3 linked regions of the Homo sapiens genome follow. The protein of the gene in region 1 interacts with the protein of each later gene in a biochemical or structural test. Each region holds a gene or a part of one and is shown on either strand. Other genes may lie near its edges. The genes, in order: PGF, NRP1 and FLT1.

Region 1 (8,522 bases):
CCCCGAGAGCACTTCCGCTGGCCCCAGACCTGCTCCGGGAGGGGGTGGAGGTGAGAGCAACGGGAAGCTGTGGCCCCCTCAGGGCCCCCTCAGGCACTGCCAGGGCTGGGTGGTCCCCAGGGCTGCTCCTGAGGCTGCAAGTGTGCCCTCAGCTCTCTCGCCAGCCCTGTGAGTGAGCCTCCCACCTGCCTACCTACCACCTGGGATGGGGGAGACCCCAGGAGAGAAATGCTTAATCCTGAGAGCAAGTTTCTGTGGAGGGCACTGGAGACGGGCCACAGGGCTGGGCAGAGCCACTGGCCACCAGCCCAAGCCCACAAGTGTCCTCTCCATGGTCACTGGCAGGGCACACAGACAGCCTGCCACAAGGGACACCCTGCTCATGCCCGCTCAGCCACGGAGCTATTGGGAGCACTTGGTTCTGCCAGATCCATGAGGAGTGTCTGAGGCTTGGGGCGACCCCCAGGGCCTCTCTGAGCCTCAGGGCCTGCCTGCATCTGTAAAAATGGAGTACAACCCCTTCCTACTTCACAGCCTGTGGTCAAAACAGAATGACAGAAAATGCCTAACATTGTTACCGTGAATAGTAATAGTAAAAATCAATGCCCATGGCTGGCCATGCTGTCTCTGGCTGTGGTGTTAACAGGTGGGGATGCCATTTTCAGATTTTGAGAGCTGGGGTGCAAAGCTCGTTGTACTTCTCCCGGTCAGATTGCAGACTCCCTGATTGATAAGTGTGACAGGAGAGCTGACCTAATGAATCTACACTTCCAGGCCTCCCCACCTCAAATCCTGGGTGATATGTACACCCATTTCTCCTCCCTGGAGTCAGAGGACAAGTCCCTTTTTCAATCTCGGAAAAAGAAGAAACCATAGACATCATGTAGCCAAGGCTCCCATTTTACAGATGAGAAAACTGAGGCTAAGGCATCTTTGGTAGCTGTGGCCTGACCTACACTAAAAGCACCAAAAAGGGCATAGTGTGGAGGTAGGGGATGGGTCCTTCCCCAAATCCCAAGGAGCATAATGTTGTGCTGGTTCCAGAGGCACAGCAAGGGAGGCATCCATGAGGTCAAGGGCAGCTACCTCCTCTACCTGCTCAGGGGTCTAGGGGCCTAAGCCTTAGGTGTCAGAGTATGGCCAGGCCCGGGAGAGGCGGGCTGCCAGGCAGGCAGCCCAGCAGAGGGTGTTCCCAGCACGCAGATGGCTATCACGCGTGTGCGTGTGCATGTCCCTACATGCCCACTCTCCCATGGCGCAGGGGAAACCTCAGCGGTGGTGTGTGGCCACTTTGCACGTCTTGGAGAGGCAGGGAGGGAGGAGCGAGGTAGGGGGCCTGGCATGGGCCTCCTGCCTTCTGTACATATGTCTCTTTGGCAAACGTCTCGTTGCCCTTTGAAGACTCCCTCTTGATGCAACCAGGGCGGGGAGTGGAGGGGCCAGGGAGGGCGCGACTATGTTCTGTCTGTTTATAATCAATGGAAACGCATGGTCAGATCCCGGCAGTTCCACCAGGGCTGGGCTGCTGGGGAGGGCCCCTCACCCATTCCTGATCCTCTTGACTGCCCACTGCATTCAGCTCCCAGACCCCCATTCTGGCCCCTGGCACTCACTCCCCACCCTGTCCTCCAAGACCCCATCCATACCCTTAAATCATGCTGGGGAAGGGCTCTGAGCCAGCTGGATGAACCCTGGCTATACTGGCCCCAGCCCCACTCTCCGTGTGCTGGTGACTCCAGCCCACACCTCTCTAGTCTCTGGGTCACCATGAGGGGATCTCTTAGGCCCTGCCAAAGTCATCACCCAGCATGTCTAGCTTGTAGGCTCTCCCCAGCTTTTATCAACCTGCACCCACGCTTCATGCCACACCTGGGCTTGGGAGAAAGGAAGAGAGGGGCTTGGGGAGCATGCGTACCCCCAGCCTGGCCAGCTTACCTTCCACCTCTGACGAGCCGTTCCCAGCAGACAAGGCCCACTGCTATGGACAGAAAAGTGCAGAGGTGAGCTGGGGGTACCTTGGAGCTCTGCACTCTTGGGCCAAGTGTGATGGCAAGAAGGTAGGGGCCCCTCTGGGTTCCTTCCCACTTGCTGCACATGCTCTGCCCTGTCTCAGAGCAGCCTGAGTACCACTAAAAACTCACTGGACCCTGGGTAGGTTAGGTCCCACCCCTCTCTGGCCTCAGTTTTCCTCATTTGGAAAAGGATGGGAGGCTAGAAGCTTTTGGAGACCCTTGGCCTGCTGCATCCCAAAGATCTTCCAATCCTGCGGGTCTGCCTTCTACCCAGCCCCCAGGCCAACCCTGCTGGGCCCTGCACAGCCCGCCTTGGCTGGGTGCCAGAGCCCAGGGGGAGGTGATCAGCTGGTGGGAGCTGAGGGGCTGGAGCGGGTGGCGCCATGAGCTGGTGCAGCCGGTAACGTTACACCTCTGGCCAGCCCTGCAGCAGGCAGGCGGGTGGCTGGGCTGCTCGGACTCCTCAGGGACTGCCCAGCCCACTCCTACTCTTGGGCTGGGGCTGGGGACTCCCAGGGCAGTGGGACAACGCAGTGGGAAGGCAGTTCATTGGCTTTGTCAGGATTTCACTGCCCAAGCTGGCTCCCAGCCAGACTCACCCGGCTCCTGGGAAAAGGGCCCTGCTCACTTCCCCAGGCCCTGCACTCAGGACCTCCGGCCACCCACCCAGGAGAAAAGGCACAGCGAGACCCCTTGTCTCGTCCCCAGCCCACCCAGGAGCCCACGGCTCAGTCCTGAGCCCTGGTGGGGGCAGGGCCAGCCTCCCCACCAACAGCTTCTTCAGCTGGCTCCTCCGCCACCCCCACCAGGCCAGGTCAGAGGTCCTGGGGACGCCTGGTTGGCCATGGGGCCTCGACCCTGACCACAAGGCCAGGGACCCGCCTGGGATTAGTGGACAGATGCTTTTAGCAAAGCCACCAGGGCTCCAGGGGCCAGACAGGAAACCTCCCTCCCTCCCTCCCTCCCTGTGGCTTCCCTGCCCCCACCAAGACAGCCCCCAGGACCTGGGGGACAGCCAGCCTGAGGTCTCTTCCCAAACGAAAGAAGTCCAGCCTGGCCTTTAGGAAGTGTGTGGACATCCTTGGAGTTGCTGCTCCCTGGAGTGGGTCTGTGATTTCAGAGTCCCATGCTTCCAGTGCTGGGATGGGGAGGTCTGGGGAGCCAGGCTAGGTGGGGGTAGCTCTTACCTGGGGGGGCACAGCAGGCAGCGCCAGCCCGGCCAGGAGCTGCAGGAAGCAAGGGAACAGCCTCATGACCGGCATCTTCTCAGACGTCCCGAGCCAGGGGGCTCCGAGGGAAAACCACCATGCTCATCCCCCGGGGAGCCCCTGGCACAGGAGGAGAAGAGCTGAGTGGGGGGCTGGACGCCTCCCTCACTGCTGCCCCGAGGCCCCGGCCGGTGGTTCGAGCATCTTCTGGAAGCCTTGCGGAGTCAGGAGCCCGTAGGTAAGGCTGTGGCTGGGGAACCCGACGGGGAGCGGCCCGGCGGGGCGGGGCGCCGAGGGGCAGGCGGGTCCCGGGGATGGTCCGTCGGGCGCCCAGTGCCACTCCAGGTCCTCCCGTAGCTGGGCGGCCGTCCGTCGATGCAGTTTCCTCCGCAGACAGCAGCTCCCTTCTGAGACTGCAGCCGGTCCGCGCCTGGGTTTCAGGGACTGAGCCGGGGCGGGGCTCCGGGCCGGCCCCGCCCACCGCAGACGAGGTTCCCGAGCCGAGTTCCCGGAGCGCCCGGTCAGCCCGCAGCGCCCGGCCAGCCCGCAGCGCCGGAGCCCGCAGTGCGTGCGAGGGGCTCTCGGCAGGTCCAGACGCCTCGCCGAGCCCAGCCCGCAGCTCCCCGGGCCGCGCCGCGCCCGCCCACAGGGCCCACAGCCCTGCTTCGGCTCTCAGGGCGGTCACCTGGGATGGGGGCATCCAGGAGTCCAGCGTCAGCCGTCAAGGCTCATGATCTAACCGCCTCTGCAGGAAGGGCCGTCCGGGATGCCTGGGAAGGCAGCCATGCCCACACCCCTAGGGGGCCAAGGGATTCCTAGCCAGGTTATATAGATGAAGAAACCGAGGCTCCGAGAGCACCCCTGCCTGCATATGTCGAATGGACATAGGCATTCTTGGAAAGTGTGTGTGTGTTGTGTGTGTGCGCGCATCTGTGTGTCCGAGGAACTGGCAGAGACAAAACCCAAGCCTACGTGACTCCAGAACTCTAACCCGACCTACCACCCTCCTAGCCAGGCACGGACACAGTGGGCCTCCCACAGGAAACCTCTCAGGGCACCTGGCTGGAGGATCAGGCCTGTTGCCTCCTTGGGAAGCAGTCTTCCCAGGCCCTCCCTGCGGGGCAGCCCCCTGTGGTAGAGAGTGGTCTCACTCAGGCATCTCCTCCTGGTCCCTGGCCGAGGAGGAACTGTACGCTGCGCGGGGGTCTGTGTGCATCTGCGCGTGTGCATGGGCATTTGCGGGTCTGTGAATATCCATGAGCGGTGCATCTGAGCCTCTGTGTGGTCTGAGTACGTGTGACTACTGTACCTCCAAATACGCCTCTGTGTGGGGGTCAGGTCTCTCTGTATCTCTGTATGCTTGTGTGATCTGTTCGTGTCCGCTGTGTATCTGGGTGTGTTTGGAAGTGTCTGAATGTGTATCTTTCGGTGGGACTGTGAGTCTGCACGCCTGCCTGTCTCTGCGTGTGTGTGTCTGTCTCTGTGGGTGAAGACTGTGCCTCTCTCTCTGCGTTTGTGTGTGCCCTCCCTTGGTTCTGGATCTTTCTTTACCACCACTCCTCTCACTGCCTTCTGTGTCCAGCTCCCAGGCTGCAGGAACCTGGCAGGACTGGGAGTCACGAGTTGGCTGGGCCTGGGGCTGGTGGGTGGCTGTGGGGGAGGAGCGAGGCCTGGGAAGTGGCCCCTACAGCTCACATTCCAGCCAAGAGCAGGGAGGCCAGGGCAGCCCCAGCTCTCACCCCAGTGACCTCTGCGTCCACTGCCTGCCTGCCTGCCCACCCACGAGGGGCTGCCAGAGATGCAGCCTGCCTGCCTGGCCGGCCCTAAGCCTGGAGGTTCAGGAGGCGGGGGCCAGTCACCAGCTGGCTAAGCGGGGTCTGCAAGGAACATCCTGACGAGCTTCAAACAAGCTGGGGTTCGTGGGGTAGACAAACTGCTTCCTGGGCCCAGAATCATTGTGGAGGGTCACTGTGCATGTGTGTGAGGGTGAGTAGGTGTGTGTTTGTGCATATATGTATTGTATATGTTGCCCATAACATCTTTGTATACATACACGTGTTTGTGTGTGTCTTTAGTTTGGGTATGGATTTGTGTATGTGGGCACAGGTGTGTATTGTGCACAAGTGTGTGCGCGTGTGCTTAAGTATCTTCATTGTATATGCTTGTCTATAACTGAGTGTTTCTAGCACTTATGCATGGGATGTGTCTATTGTGTATGAGTTTGTATTTTTTTTTTTTTTTTCTGAGACAGAGTCTTGCTCTGTCGCCTAGGCTGGTAGACAGTGGCGCAATCTCGGCTCACTGCAACATCTGCCTCATGGGTTCAAGCGATTCTTGTGCCTCAGCCTCCCAAGTAGCTGGGATTGCAGGTGTACACCACCATGCCTGGCTAATTTTTGTATTTTTAGTAGAGACAGGTTTTTGTCATGTTGGCCAGACTGGTCGAGAACTCCTGGTCTCAAGTGATCCACCCACCTCAGTCTCCCAAAGTGCTGGGATTACAGGTGTGAGCCACCGCGCCCAGCCTGTATTCATTAATTTGTTTTTTCATTTGGCATGTATTGCCTGAGCCCTGCTATGCTCCAGGAACTGCTCTAGGTGCTAGGGATATGATATGGAGGGTCTCTCTGAGTTTACATTCATGGAGTAGGGGGATACCGATGGCTGGGGATGCCGAAGTTCTCTTTCCTGAGTGAACTCAACACCTTGGGCGAAGTCTGTGGTTCCCACAAGTGCACCTCAGTCCTTCATCACTAAATTGGGGACCATACCCTTCTAAACCCAGCTTCCTGGGCTGTGAGATGAATTAGCCTAGGGTAGGCTCAGCGGCAGAGACCAAGGAGACTCTAACATTTCCATGGATTGAATCAAAGTTTGTTCTTGCTCACATCCAGTCCAGAGCAGCTGTGCTAGTAATTCTGCTCCCTTGTTTTTTTTTTAAATTTTTGTAATTTTAATTTTAATTTTTAGAAACGAGGTCTTGCTCTCTCTCCCAGGCTACAGTGCACTGGTGTAGCACTGGCTATAGCTCACTGCAGCCTCCAATTCCTGGGCTCAAGGGATCCTCCCGCCTCAGCCTCCAGAATAACTGGGTCTACAGGTGTGTGCTACCATGCCCAGTTAATTTAAAAACTTTTTTTTTTTGGGGGTAAAGACAGGGTCTTGCCATCTTGCCCAGGCTGTGCTCCTTTGTACACTGGCCCCACTATTGACCAGCCACATCGCCTCAAGCAGCTTCCTTTGCTTTCAGAGCCCCAGCTTCCTCCATCTGTAGGAGTGGGAATGATAACAGTACTTACCTCATAGGGTTGTGCGAGGACTGAGAAAGCACCTTTGGTGCAAAGAATGGTAGCAATTGATCACGATTTCTAATTTAATTTTTGACTTGTATTAGAGAAATAAAAATACTACAGTTAGACCAGGTGCAGTGGCTCACGCCTGTAATCCCAACACTTTGGGAGGCCAAGAAGGACAGATCACCTGAGATTAGGAGTTCGAGACCCGCCTGGCAAACATGGTAAAACCCCGTCTCTACTTAAAATACAAAAATTAACTGGGCGTGGTGGGAGGCACCTGTAATCCTAGCTACTCGGGAGGCTGAGGCAGGAGAATCACTTGAACTCAGGAGGCAGAGGTTTCAGTGAGCCGAGATCGTGCCACTGCACTCCAGTCTGGACGACAGAGTAGAACTCCATCTCAAAAAAACAAACCAAAACAAACAAACAAAAAACAAACTACAGTTACAGAGCAGAGTCCTGTAGCATGGACATGAGATAGAAAATAAAGAATCTTATGCTTCTGCCTGTGGCAGTGGAGAAAGAAAATGGAGCGATTTGCATAGGTGCACACAAACACTAATTCTCACCATCACAGTGCAGGCTCTCAATCCTCAACTGTCACTGAGGCCCTTGAAGTAGACCCAGGTGCTTAGGGGGTGGCAGTCAGTGCCCACAACTCAACACTTAACTGTTTATCACCACAATCTCTTGCTGTTGTTTCAGGGAGAGAAGTAATATTTATTGAACATCTATTATATGCCAAACAGTGTGCTTGGTGCTCTAACCACCTTGACTCATTGAATTCTGATCACATTGTAGTGGTAGGTTTTAATTATTTCCATTTTGAAGATGGAAAGATGGAGGCCCAGGGAGTTTATGTAATTTTCCAATAGTCGTTTAGCTACTTAAAAAGGAACAGTGATGGGGATCAAGCCGAGATCTTTCTCCAAAGGTCTTTCCAGTGAACCTAAGCGCTAGCTCCCAACCTTACTGCAAGGACGTTGAAGGTGAGGGCTGATGTCTTGAGCCGTTTCTGGGTCTTCCCCATGCTGGAGCAGAATGGATGCTTGACAGACTTGGGATGGTTGATGTGTGGAAGGAAGGAGCCCTGATTTCAGGAGCTGACTCTTATGCGGGGAGTCGGGCAGATACAGATAAACATGAGGGGTTGGGTGTGGAAACACTGGGCCATGACAATGCAGTGGACCCTGAGCAGTCATGGCTTCCAGTCTGCAGGCCAGCCCCTGGCCCCCAAGGCATCCTGCAAACACAGTTTCCCATATTATTAGTCATCGTGTTAGCCTGAAACACCTGCCCCAACCCATCCCAGCTTGTAGGCTTTCAGCTTCCTGACTCACTTCCCCATTTTCTAGCCATTTTCCCATTTTCTAGCCTCTTTGTTGTCTTGGCCCTATGAACTTTTCCCCAGTGATGACTTGTCCTCTCTTAACGACAATTCAGCACCTGCCTCTGGAGAGGTGTCTCAAGTGGTCCTGGGTAAACACCCTCTGCTTCTGACCTTGTTCCTGAGTCCCGGACTTGGGTGGCTGAGAAGTGTAGCATCCAAGGATTATCTTCCCCTTCATGACTGGTAGAAAGGGAAACAGTGGGCAGCTCTGGGCCAAGGGCCTTTTCACTTTATAGACTGAACCTGCATTATAGCCAGCAGCTACTCAAAGCTGCTAGCAAGCAGATGCTTGGTTGGCCTCTGCCTTCTTGCCCTGCCTCCTGGGCTGCGATTTCCTGTGGACCCACCCCAGCCTCCATCCTGAGCTCTTCTTCTCTTTATGCACTTGTTCTAGGCAGGATTCCATGGCTTCCCTGGCAACCAGCACTGGGTAAGACATCCCTGGTACAGGTTCCCACAGTACCTTGAATTCCCCTCCATCATGGCACCTGGCCTTCAGTATCACAATTGCCCAGTTGCTTATCTGTCTTGCCTAAAAGATGGTAAGATCTAAGAGGGCAGGTACTGTGTCTCTTGTTTACCCTTGTAGCCTCCACACCTTGCTCAGTGTCTGGGA
Region 2 (8,045 bases), on another chromosome or scaffold:
CCTTATCATGACAGGGTCCAATGTGAGTTGAGATTCTACTTTCAGAAAATGTCTTCTTAATCTTCTCTCCTTATCAGGATATTTTAAAAAAGAGAATTTTTAAAAATCTTGGAAGTTATTGGATAGTGGCATGTCACCAACTTCTTTAACTAGAACAGTGCTAATATAATAAAAGCCATCAGGTGTGGGATATTTTATGAAAATGTTTAATTCAACTGTTTCTTTGGAATGTAGTAGTCATAGTTTGGAATTTAAGTTACAGTTCAGTTCTATGTGGTTTTTATGCTACTCAGTGTCTGAGAATACAAATGTCATTTAAAGTTAAGGCTTCGCTGTTCATTTTGAAACAACAATTTACAAGTGTCATATTGTCATAGAAAATAATAATTTCTGTAAAAAAAATCTGCACAAAATCTTATGATGGTACAAAACATGAAGCAATAATATACCAGTAAAATGAAAACATTTTACTACAGAAAGTTTTATAGATTTCCATAAAGAAAAAATATGTTATTTTACACCTTTAAAAATTACAAAACAATCTAAAACAATATAAACTGAACATTTTGTAACACTGCCTTTACAAATTAATAACTTTATAAACATATAATTTTTAAATATATTTATCAGTGCAAGATACTTTAAATTTTAAAGTTGCAGTATCATTTTTCCTTGGCTGAGGACAACTTTAAGTCTGTTGCCTTTAAAAACAACAAACGAGTGTTTCTTAGTGCTTTCCTTCTGGTAGGATTATATCAACTAAATGAATGTCTCTGGGGACAAAAAACTATTCTTCTTTCATGGTGATCAATATTTTCCTGGAAACAAAAGGCATTCTCAATCCAATTTAACTAAGATGAATGGACTGTCTCGTCTATGATGCAAATGTGACTCCCAACAAATGTCTTTGAGTGAGACGTCTAGCAATGTGGGAAGGAAGATCTAAAAAATCTCATGTCCAACATGGCATGATAAAAATCCACCAAAACCAACCAAAGCTTCTTTGGGTTAATTCATAGGCTGCCTGGTAAGATATTTGCTTCCCTGTGCTGTTAGAGGCTTAGATGTTGCCAGCCCTAAGGCAGGCTTATTCTTTGTGAGCCGCTGGAAGTTTCTAGAAGCATTCATTTAAGTCTATTTTTTCAAGGTTGCTGTTATGAATTTTTAAAACATTTGTTTGACTTTATGTGTTTTTCCCCCTCTTATCTTAAAATACTTGACCCCCAGGCATCAGGATTTATAGTTTCATTCTTAAATTAACTGTTCTTCCTTCCACTTCCCTTGTGTGACTCAGTAGCAAAATAAGAAAGTTCTCTTGGGTCATTTTTGCATATTTGGATAGAAAAATCTCATGCTTTTGGATTTGGAAGATTTTATCCAGTTCTTCCTTTGGGTCTCACTTGAAAGCCAATTTGTATTATTTCTTTCCTCAACTTATCACTATTTCTACTAAATGCCAACATTTCTATCAAAGGTCATTTTGAATAGAATAGATAAGGAAAAAAGATACTGTCACTTTAACCAGTTAACAAGAAAACCAAAGTTAGACTTTGGAGGGCAAAGTTAGGAATTTCCCTTATTTATTTATTTTTAAACATAAAGTCTAGTAAAATCGTTTGCCATTCCCAGCAGGTTAAAGCTGCAAGTTTCTTTCCTGGACAATGGCAAATCCTCCAATTCTAAGAGAGAAAAAAGACAGAGAGATAGGAGAGAGAAAGAGAAGAGAGTTTACATTTGAAAATACATTCCATATGAAAGAACAATAAGAGAGAATATTGTAGCTTTATACAAAAGGGTCAAGAAACATGAAATTGAACTACAGAAAAAGCAGAACAATTAAGCCACGTTGCCAAATCTTCAGAGCCCTTGCCTGCCCGGAGGGGCTGGCATCTCACACGAAAATAAACTTTCTTCTTAGTCAGTGGGCCACCAGAGTTTGATTAAAGAGCAGGGCTTTCACCAGCAAGAAGCAGAGTGGGTCGTTAATGTAACACAATGAACCAGTACAAACAAAAAGGCACTTGAGAGGACATAGACTAGCCAGTGCCAAGGATTTGTGTTTTTGTTGTTGCGGTTGTCAGCAGTATACCCAGTGGCCAGCCGTGTTCAGGGATGGCACCGTTTTCTGTATGGAGTTCACAAGCACGAGGTTTAGTACAACACCGGAAAAACAGCAAGAAAACTGGACAGTATTGCTTCGTAAACAGAGCTGACACACTACACCAGTACTGAGGCTACAGTACTTTAAAAAGAAAACAGCCTAATCCTTCTTTGCCTATGCACGACGCGGGCAATTATACACAAGTACAACTTCAGGAGTCCACTGAAATGCGGTGATTCTAGTATATTCTGGGCACTGGGTTTCAGGTAGCATGTCCATCCAAAGGGCCACACGGAATACGCTTGGTGCCAGCATCTTGGATTTCGCTCAGTTTCCAAAAAGAATCCACAAAGGGGAGAGGAGAGAGAGAGAGAGGGGCAGGAGGGGTCGAAATGAATGATTATGTCAATCATACTTGGTCTCAACACCAGCATCTGATTATTCAAATGAAACCAACAGGAAAAAAGCTGACTGCACATGAGTCCGATGGTGAACACAGCTCCTTGTCCATGTCTGTCGGCCATACTCATTGAAGCTCCTGAGAAAAGCCTGGCTCAGTGGTCATCAACACACTTCCCAGCCTGTATAGTGAAAGATCAACAGCTCCCCAGCTCACTCCCGTCCTTCCACTTCCGTCCTTTGACTGTCTTTTCATCTCTGTCTGCCTTCATGCCTCCGAATAAGTACTCTGTGTATTCAGTTTGTCTTTTTTCAACTTCACACCATCCACAAGTTCAAAGTTATAGTTCTCCAGGGCAGACAAGTTTCTTTCTGACATCCCATTATGCCAACAGGCACAGTACAGCACGACCCCACAGACAGCCCCCAGGAGGACCCCCAGGGCACTCATGGCTATGATGGTGATGAGGATGGGGTCTAAGGTCTTCAACACATTGCCTGGCTTCCTGGAGATGTTCTTGTCACCTTCTCCTTCACCTTCGTATCCTGGCGTGCTCCCTATGGAAAAAAACAATATTGTCTCCGTGAGCACCGCCAACAGACCAGATGAAAGCAGACAGAAAAATAGAAAGGAACGAAACAGGAGCAAATCACACACCCCAGTTTTGCCTGTCATATCTGACTCATTGTTGGGAACAGAAGTGTGGGAGGTGGTAGAGGGGAGTGGGCGCTGGGGCTTCTGACAGACTGCTTAGCACGTGGAAACAACCCATTCTGGATCAACTGGGAGGTTCCTTGCTCATCTAACTCAGATTTCATGCAGCCCCATCTGTCCTAGATTGTAATCTGTGTTTACAGTCCTTGGCTAGATAGGTGATCATTAAGTTTTGCAAAATGCTTAGTCACACATTAGTCTAGCAAGGGGATTTTACCATTCCCAGTGCATGTACCTAACCCCAAAACAGGCACAAGAAAAACCTTCATGGCTGCCCTTCTACGTGGTGCTGTTTCCAGGATCTGGCATGGTTTATGCATGTGTTTGTTCTCCCATATGGAAAATCTTCAAGTGAAACGAATTTTGCCCAAAGTCTACAGTAGTTTCAGTAAAGAAGGAGTGATTTTTTAGAACAAGAGAATGCTTGCTGCTGACATGTAAACAGAGTGTGGCTCAAATCGAGAAACCATGTCTGTCATGCCAAATAGAAGACATTTACTAATAATCAGCATCTTTGCAGCCCTGGTAGTTTAACTGGAGACAGTTGCACTGCTCTGCAGCTCAGTCACTGGGGACTTGTTTTCTTTGGAGTGGAACAGGAGAAATTGTTAACATGGGAGCTTTGAGCCTAATTACCTGGTACTAGAAACGGGATGAAAATGTTAACGCACAATATGCCTGGGGTTTACTTAATGGTGTTCTGATCAACAAAGATTCCAATCAAAGAAAACTAAAAATATGAGATGCAAATCCCTAACCAAGAGAAAACAAGCCTTGGGGCATATTAATACTCTCTCCCTTGATGAAATATTGTTTTGAAACAACCTCTAATAAAGTTTACATCTCTGTGTGGACTTGGTAATGTGTTCATATTACTAACAGCAAGGTGCAATATTTATTTGTCTCTATGAAGTCCACGGCTGGCCATAGAGTAGGATCCCATTTCTAAGGGCAACAGATGCTGACATGCATTGATGATAAGGGTGCAGCACCATCCACACAGCAGCTGTGAGTGATGGTGGAGCAAGTGTCCAACAGCCCACAATGCTGGCTGGGAGATCTGGAAACTTCTGGGAATAGACTAATACCAGGCAAGGCCTAACTCTGATCAAAGGTCTTGCATTTGATCACAAAGCAGCGTTCAGCAAAAACACACATTTATAGTTCATCAGGCTAAAGTGTGAGGCTACCACCTAATTAGCTATGCTACTTAAGTTTCAGTCTCACTATCTGTAAAATGGGGACAAATACAACCCCTAGAGCTGCTGTGAGGATTAAATAAGATAAGGTATGTAGGACGGGTGCAGTGGCTCACGCCTGTAATCCCAGCACTTTAGGAGGCTGAGGCCAGGGAATTGCTTAAGCTAAGGAATTCAAGACCAGCCTGGGCAACATGGTGAAACTCCACCTTACAAAAGACAAAAAAATAAGTTGAGTGTGGTGGTGTGGGCCTGTAGTCTGCTCGGAAGGTTGAGGCAGGAAAATCGCTTGAACCTGGCAGGTGGAGGCTGCAGTGAGCTGAGATCACGCCACTGCACTCCAAGCCTGGGTGACAGAGACAGACTCTGTCTCAAGAAAAAAAGAAAAGAAAAAGATCAGGTAAGTAAAGTGCTCAGAACATACTAACTCTTCAATAAATCCTTCTTATCATCATCATCATCATCACAAAACCAAGGTTCTAGTAGAGGAAGATGGGAAAAGATGAATCAAACACAATGGATTATCTCAGAAATTGGGCTCTGGTCTCTTAAAGATCCTAGCTGGATATCAACAAACAGAAGAATTTCGGTTGGTTTCAAATAACTGTGTATGGAAATAGTCTTCACTAATTTTCTGTCTTTGTAGTGATAAACTGAGTGTGTTTGAGCTGATTATCCTTTATGTTCCACCTCTAGACTGGGCAGGGAAGGGCCAGGGTGAGCACACTTCCCAGGCTCAACCAGGTGTACAAGCAGGACCCGTCACCGAGGCTCCCCAAGTCTTATGGGCAGCTCGGAAGTGGGTACTCTGTGAGCACAATCCGATCCACAGCACCAACCCAGGGCCATGGGCATAGATGTTTTTTATTTGAACTTTTTGACATACCAGTGTATTAGAGTTCCACAAAGTTTCTTCATAAACACAATGAAAGCCATAGTAAAATTTTTTAAAAATTGGTCAGCAAGACAAATTTACCTGTTTCATCAATTTTAATTTCTGGGTTCTTTTTATCCAGGTCTGCTGGTTCTGACAAGTCAAACAAAATTGAAAGAGATATTTGAACTGCCATCAAAATATAATGCACCAAACTACACAAACCTTTAGGTACATGCACACACACACACACACACACACACACACGTGTCTACTGGGCTCCTTTTGGATTTTTTAGTTCAATCAGAAATCACCAAACAGATCAATAAAGAGGCAATGTTAAATGACCGGGAAATTGGTAATGTGACATCACAACACTGCCTTTAAGGTGCCATATCTAAATCCAGGTAGCACTGCTGCTAGCAGAATCTGTTGTTTTAGGAGACAAGGGTGGGCTGGGTATGCTGGCTCGTGCCTATAATTCCAGCACTTTGAGAGGGCAAGGCAGGAGAACCACATTAGGCTAGGAGTTTAGGACCAGCCTGGGCAACATAGTGAGATCCCATCTCTACAAAAATAAAAAAATTAGCTTTCCAGCTGCTTAGGAGGCTGAGGCGGAAGGAGAGCTTGTGCCCAGGAGATGGAGTTTACAGTGAGCCATGATGGTGCCACTGCACTCCACCCTGGGTGACGGAAGCAAGAGCCTGTCTCAAAAAAGCAAAAACAACAACAACAAATTTAAAAAAAAAAAAAAAGAAGAGAAGGGGGAAGAGACATGGTTTTGGCATCTGAAATGTGGAAAAAAATCTGGTGAATATAGGTTCTACTGAAGTAGATTCGTACATATGGTGACCATCCTATAGTTTGTAGATAACTGCTTCCTAAATTTAGTGTGCGTTAGTTTGGCTTCTCGAATAGTATGCCAACTCTTTGAGGCAAGAGACTGTGCCCTGTGTATTACAAAAATAGATAAATACATAAAATAGCTATTGAAGAAGTAGAGTTCCAGTATTCCTGTGGTACTAAGTACAGAGCAGGAATTTTTGAGTGCTTTGTCCACTGCTGTATTCCAGCATTTACAACAGTGTCTAGCACATCATAGGTGCTTTAATAGATATTTGTTCTATGTATGAATGAATGAAAGATTAATAAATAGTTGATAATCTCATAGCATCCACACCCAGATGTTCAAGGATGCATATTTGATGAATCATTGTACAATTGTCTTACACATATTTTTATTGGTAGCAGCATAAACAAATAAACAAAGTGGTTTAATGGAGCCGTAGTTGTGAATTTCCCACTACAATGTCTGGCAGCAACTACAGCTAAATGGACAAATCACAAGAAAAGAAAAAGTCCCATAGAATTGTCTCAACTATGTGCTTTCTTTTCTTTTCTCCCTTCCTTCCTTCCTTCTTTTTTCTTTTTTTTGAAATGGGGTCTTGCTCTGTGGCCTAGGCTGGAGTGCAATGGTATGACCTTGGCTCACTGCAACTTCCGCCTCCTGGGTTCAAGCAATTCTCCTGCCTCAGCCTTCCGAGTAGCTGGGATTACTACAGCTGCGTGCCACCACGCCCAGCTAATTTTTGTATTTTTTAGTAGAGATGGGGTTTTGCCATGTTGGCCAGGCTGGTCCTAAACTCCTGATCTCAAATGATCCTCCTGCCTCGGCCTCCCAAAGTGCTGGGATGACAGACGTGAGCCACTGCACCCGGCTCAGCCATGTACTTTCACTGGAGCATCCGCATGCTGCTTTGCATATGGTATGTAGTCAGTTAGAACTTGTTGAACCGAATTGAATTTCGTTAGAACTTGTTGAACTGAATTTAATTTCGTTTCTTTGTTTTAGTCTGTGGAGTTTGTTCTCACATCCCAAAACATCACCATCATCACTCTCACTTTGGAATGGAGAAGTGAAGAAATCACAGACACTGTGTTACTACATGAAATACACATTTTTACAGCAGTGTAGATATGGATGTGGGTAATTTGTAAAGGAGTTGCAACTAAACTATTAAGCCTTATCATTCTTGTGAAGATTTGCTAAATAGTGCAGCACTAAGCAGATTCCCTTTAATAGTATGAAGAAGCAAGCCTTTATTCATTGCTCCTTTCTTTTTGCCCAATTTCTTCGATGGATCCTATCAAATTATTGCCGCTTTAGGGATTATATATATTCAATATATTATATAATAAAAGCTTTGTAAGTTGCTGAAGTGACCAAAACCCCCATTACAGCCAACAGACCTCCTTTGTCTTAAATTGGCCCAATAGGCTTATCCCATTTTGTTATAATTAACATCCTATTATATAATGATGTATAACAAAAGTTTCAATGTAGCAAATGGAGCTGAAGACTAATTACTGTGCTATTACACTGCCATTAGTAATGCTATTTGTAATTATATATCAAGAACTAGGGAATATGAATTGGTTTTCTATGTCTTACATCCACCTAGTACAAGACCCATAAAGACCAACTCTGAAATACTAGGCCAAGTCTCTGAATCTCATTGAAGTCCTTTAAGTCATTTCAGATATTTTAAAAGTCAGAAACATCTACTTGTGATAAAGCAAAGAATTATGGCTTCTATGGTTCATTAACAATGCATTCTTAATTAAACTTATTCTGATCAAAGTTTTCAGAGGCCTGCTGTTTTGTTTATACACCCAGATATTTGGAATTATCCAGATGTCTGACTTTCCACTGTTCATCAAAATGTTTCGGTATGGCATCTATAGCTTGTAAGCTGG
Region 3 (4,328 bases), on another chromosome or scaffold:
TAAAATGGGTTTTCTCCTATGAAAAGTAGTGGTACTAAATGGCAGGGGTTTTTTTCTTCTTTTAGTAATATTGCATTGAAGAATTGTGTACATACATTCATATATATACACACACATTCACAAGTAAGTGTGCAGCTCAGTGACTCATCATAAGGTGAGCATACCTATGCACTACCACCCGGATCAGGAAATAGAACATTAGTAGCATCTGGTTGGATTTTGGGTTTTTTTTTTCCCCCTCCCTCAAGTGTTCTTAGCTCGCAGAATAGAAGAATGGCCATCCCTGTGTTGGGATCAAGGATTTTTTTTTTTAATTTCCTGGCCTGTGAAACCCAAAAGTCTGGTAATATGTTTAACACTGAGGAGTCCAATAAACCTTACTAGGCCATACTTCTGCTGGAGGAAAGAATAAAAATTAATTCCCAAATGTACTATAAGTTTCCAGAGCCATGAGAACATTTCTAAACTGACGTGACATTGATTCCTCAAGCATTCTTCAAGTCATTTGCCTGAATGAATGATTTTATTCTTATGTTATGAAACCCATAATACTTTTTAAAGGATTTCAGATTCTTGAAGACAAAATGCCTCTTGCCCTCTTGAGTTAACTAAAAGTGTACTGAGATTTGTCATTTATCCATTTTTATTGTCTTTGTCCCAAAGAAAGTAGGCCTATTTTTTCCCCTTAAAATATCTTTCCAATCTAGTTTCCTTATGATGATATTAGGCGGGTAATACTATGACCAATTTCTAAGACAAAGTGTTGGTCACTTATTCAATTTCTAGTACTTAGTGACCTGAGTTGTTTTCCTAGGACATAATCCACAAAACAAGATTGAAGAATACAGAGCTGGCATGTGTACTTTTACATTCTTGGGTTTCAAGCTTTTGCCTATTATTTTGTGTGGTTTTCTGCAGCATGTGTACACACCCTCTGTGATTATGCTAATTATTTATCAGCTGAAAATTAGTGTTTGGGGACAACTGCCTCTTTTTAATTGAGGGCACTTTTCTCTGCGGCTGGCACTCACACCCAGCATATGCTTTACTTGTTTCATGATCCTGTTGATGTTAGGGTTTAGTTTTCTGGGCAATCTGCCTAGTTTGATTTTGTTTTTTACTTACTGGTTGCAGTGTTCTGATTGTTTAGCACAGCCATTTTCTAGGACCGATAGAAACCTCTTTGCCCTCTCTTCAGCAGCATTTGCTTTATCTTTCTTGTGCTGTGTTTAATAAAGAGCACTAGTCCTCCACCCCCAGGGACACCTGTGACCTCTTTTTTACACTTAACAAGCAAATCAGGGAGAAAATATATGTGTTTTTGGAAGTTTATTATATGAAGATGGTATACAAAATACATTCATCATGACTAGAAATATAGGACCAAACCATGTCTGTCTTATATCTGTAGCATATATTCTTGGTTTGTATAAAAGTAACTTTAAAATTCCAGTTTCCTTAAATAGTTATGCACAAAACACACATACACCCACACACACACACACACACACACACACACACACACATACAGTTACACCACTGTCGGCCAAAGATGCACTCCTCCTTTAATCAATTTAAATGAGGCTAGCGAGTATCTGTTTGATGTTTGCATTCTTGTGGGCTAGGAAACAAGGCACGGGTCCCTAAAATTAACATCTCGGTGTCACTTCTTGGACTGACAAGACACAGACTTGCACATGGTTTCAGCCCCATTCCACCCAGACTGTTCCACGTACATTATCTCAGAAACTCTGAAAGGAAGTGCTCGTTCTTTGTTAGTGCCAACCATTTTTGTCATAAATGGCAAATGATTGGAATATTATCAGTTAATTCATGTTTCAATTTTCAGTGCTATTTTAATGAACAAGCACTTTGTAACTAGCTCATTATTACAAGTCTCCATTTTTCTTTCTACATTAAGACTCCAGATGGAACCATTCTTTGACTGATGGATGGACTCATGTATGCTACAAACCTGAGTTTGAAGGAGCTGAGTAACAATTCTAATGGTTTTGCTTTTCTCTTGAAAAGGAGTATTTATTATGGTCTCTTAATGATTAAGAATTAATTATTGAAATCAAGACATGAATAGCTAAGGTTTTATTTGTTATCACTATTTGCTGGGCTATTATCTGATTTGGAAAAAAAAAAAAAAGTAGAGAATTGACTGAGGTCTTCTTTTTTCTGTGTTTAACCTCCTTCCAGTTACCTGATTTATAAAATTGCCAGCTGTCACAGGTGGTTTGCGTATGTAAAGAAGAGGAAGAACAAAGATTTGTCCTCTCTTCTGGCTCTAGCCTGCTTTTGTTTGGATTTAGATCTTGGTGGAGAGGACTGTCCCACTCCTCTCTTCTGGCTAGTGAGTCTTCCACAAAAGCCGCTGCCAGGAGCCAGTAGGCTCACTAGGGAATGTGCTGATGACGGTCCCATCTCTTCATACAGAGAGCCTTTAAACAAGGATGTGGCACATAAGAACAGAGGCATACATTCTTCGGTTACTTAGAGCTCAGGTTCTACAGTTAAATTACATGGATAAAAGGAAGCATACTCTTCTCCCCAAGAAGCAGCAATCCACTGTTGCCTCTCCAGCTTCTGACTGGCTGCAGAAGGTGCAGACATCATAAATACATAGACCCTAACTTGCATAAATAGCATCAAACAGAGCCAGCTTAGCGATCCAAGGCCCACTTGATCTTTAGACCCTGAAGAGTAGGCGCCCTTTCCTACCCTGTCTCCCTATTCCCATCATGCTCAGACCCCAGGCAAGTTTCAAAGCAGTTGAAAATGGGCTTTTCTTCTAGTGATGGCTCATTAACTAATATCCTGAGTCCCAACTGGAGAAATACCTTGCATAAATTACATACCACCTTTTTACTCAAGGAGCTTAAAGTGCTTAATATGCGCCAGCTAATGCTCTTCCACATCCTTTCAGATTAGTGTGAGATAGTGGAATCCCCATTAAATGAAAAGGAAACGTGACTGACTTCCTGTGTTTTGGGTCCCAACTGTGTTGGTGAATTGGTTTGGTTGGTATAGAGACGGGGTTTTCCCTTGACCTTATTGACCTTTTTCCTCCATCAGCCCTCGTTTTGATATGGAGAAAACTCCTCTCCTCAGGACTGCATTTTCATTCTTCTCAGCTTTCTTTCACAACTAACTGTGCAAAACAGAATAATACCAAGAAATTGAGTTAAGTGTCTGGACTATATATTAATACCCAAAATAGAATGTGACATTTTCAGTGTAAGGCCATCATGGCCTGGAGACAACCTAACTCTGGCTAAGTTTTCAGTGCATCTTACTAGAGGAGCCAAAAGTATGGGCTCAGAGTTGAGTGCCACCCTCAGTGCTACAAATCAAAACATGCCACGAATGAGAATGGACATAGAACCACTTCCATAGGTAAAGTTCTAAAATTTGCTTTAGTTCCAAAAAAGATATTTGTCCTTTTCTTGCCTCCCAGAATCCAGAAAATGTCCCCTCATCGCTGTCCATCTGCTCCTGGCTGGGCCCTCAAATGTAGAAGGGTCAGAGCTGGGAAGCCACTGAAATGGCATTGCTGAGCCCCGTCCCCCTCCGTGCCCACATGGTGCGTCTCAAATTCTTTCTCATGCCTTCTCCCGGTTTCTCTTTTCTCCCTTGCTTTTTGCTTTTTTTCCTTTTCCTCCTCACATGTCTTAGGCCTGCTAGAGGACTCCCGAGATGTTGCTCAGGCCAGCCAGTGATCCCTGGGGCTAACGGGCTTGTTGCCCTGGGTTTTGGGCTGCAGGGCTGGCCCAGTGGGGTACGTGATGCATTGGGTGATCAGTGCAGCTCCTCAATCAAACTGGTCCTGCGTGCCCTGAGGTGGCGGGGGTTGGAGCAGGGAAGTCATTGGGTTTAGGAAGGATTTCTCTAACACTGAGTAACATGAGGATTTAGCAGTAGTGTTCTTCACTTGTCACTATTTCTCTATCTGGAGTTACATTCTTGTTAGTCAAAAAAAAAAAAGCACTATTAAAAAAATCACAAAAAGCAGCTGGCTCCCATGGAAAGATAAAGGTGTAAACTTATATATGCATAATACTGGCAAAAGCTAGTTTCCTGGGGGTATAAATACACATGTGCTTCTAGAAATAAGGCTTCGTGTCAAACTCTAGATGGGTGGGGTGGAGTACAGGACCACCGAGTTGTAGTCTGGGGGCGGGGAGCAGCACGCGATTTTCCTTTCCAGCTCAGCGTGGTCGTAGGTGAACCTGCGCTTGCCTTCGCTGACGTGCCCACAGCTGGAATGGCAGAAACTGGGCCTGCTGACATCAGACAGCCCCGACTCCTTACTTTTACTGGTT

The links.
Region 2: the proteins of PGF (region 1) and NRP1 form a complex in vitro, tested with the Homo sapiens proteins (one study listed by BioGRID).
Region 3: the proteins of PGF (region 1) and FLT1 are reported together in a solved structure, tested with the Homo sapiens proteins (2 studies listed by BioGRID and IntAct, with this or other methods).

Annotation. Positions count from the first base shown.
Region 1 is NC_000014.9:74,951,969-74,960,490, forward strand, and holds the start of PGF (placenta growth factor isoform 1 precursor), read right to left. Parts: upstream 3,630-8,522; 5' UTR 3,275-3,629; coding exon 3,200-3,274; intron 1,979-3,199; coding exon 1,936-1,978; intron 1-1,935. UniProt on the Homo sapiens protein: Growth factor active in angiogenesis and endothelial cell growth, stimulating their proliferation and migration. It binds to the receptor FLT1/VEGFR-1. Isoform PlGF-2 binds NRP1/neuropilin-1 and NRP2/neuropilin-2 in a heparin-dependent manner.
Region 2 is NC_000010.11:33,177,308-33,185,352, forward strand, and holds the end of NRP1 (neuropilin-1 isoform a precursor), read right to left. Parts: intron 5,442-8,045; coding exon 5,391-5,441; intron 3,059-5,390; coding exon 2,769-3,058; 3' UTR 186-2,768; downstream 1-185. UniProt on the Homo sapiens protein: Cell-surface receptor involved in the development of the cardiovascular system, in angiogenesis, in the formation of certain neuronal circuits and in organogenesis outside the nervous system. Mediates the chemorepulsant activity of semaphorins.
Region 3 is NC_000013.11:28,299,032-28,303,359, forward strand, and holds the end of FLT1 (vascular endothelial growth factor receptor 1 isoform 1 precursor), read right to left. Parts: coding exon 4,136-4,328; 3' UTR 1,315-4,135; downstream 1-1,314. UniProt on the Homo sapiens protein: Tyrosine-protein kinase that acts as a cell-surface receptor for VEGFA, VEGFB and PGF, and plays an essential role in the development of embryonic vasculature, the regulation of angiogenesis, cell survival, cell migration, macrophage function, chemotaxis, and cancer cell invasion.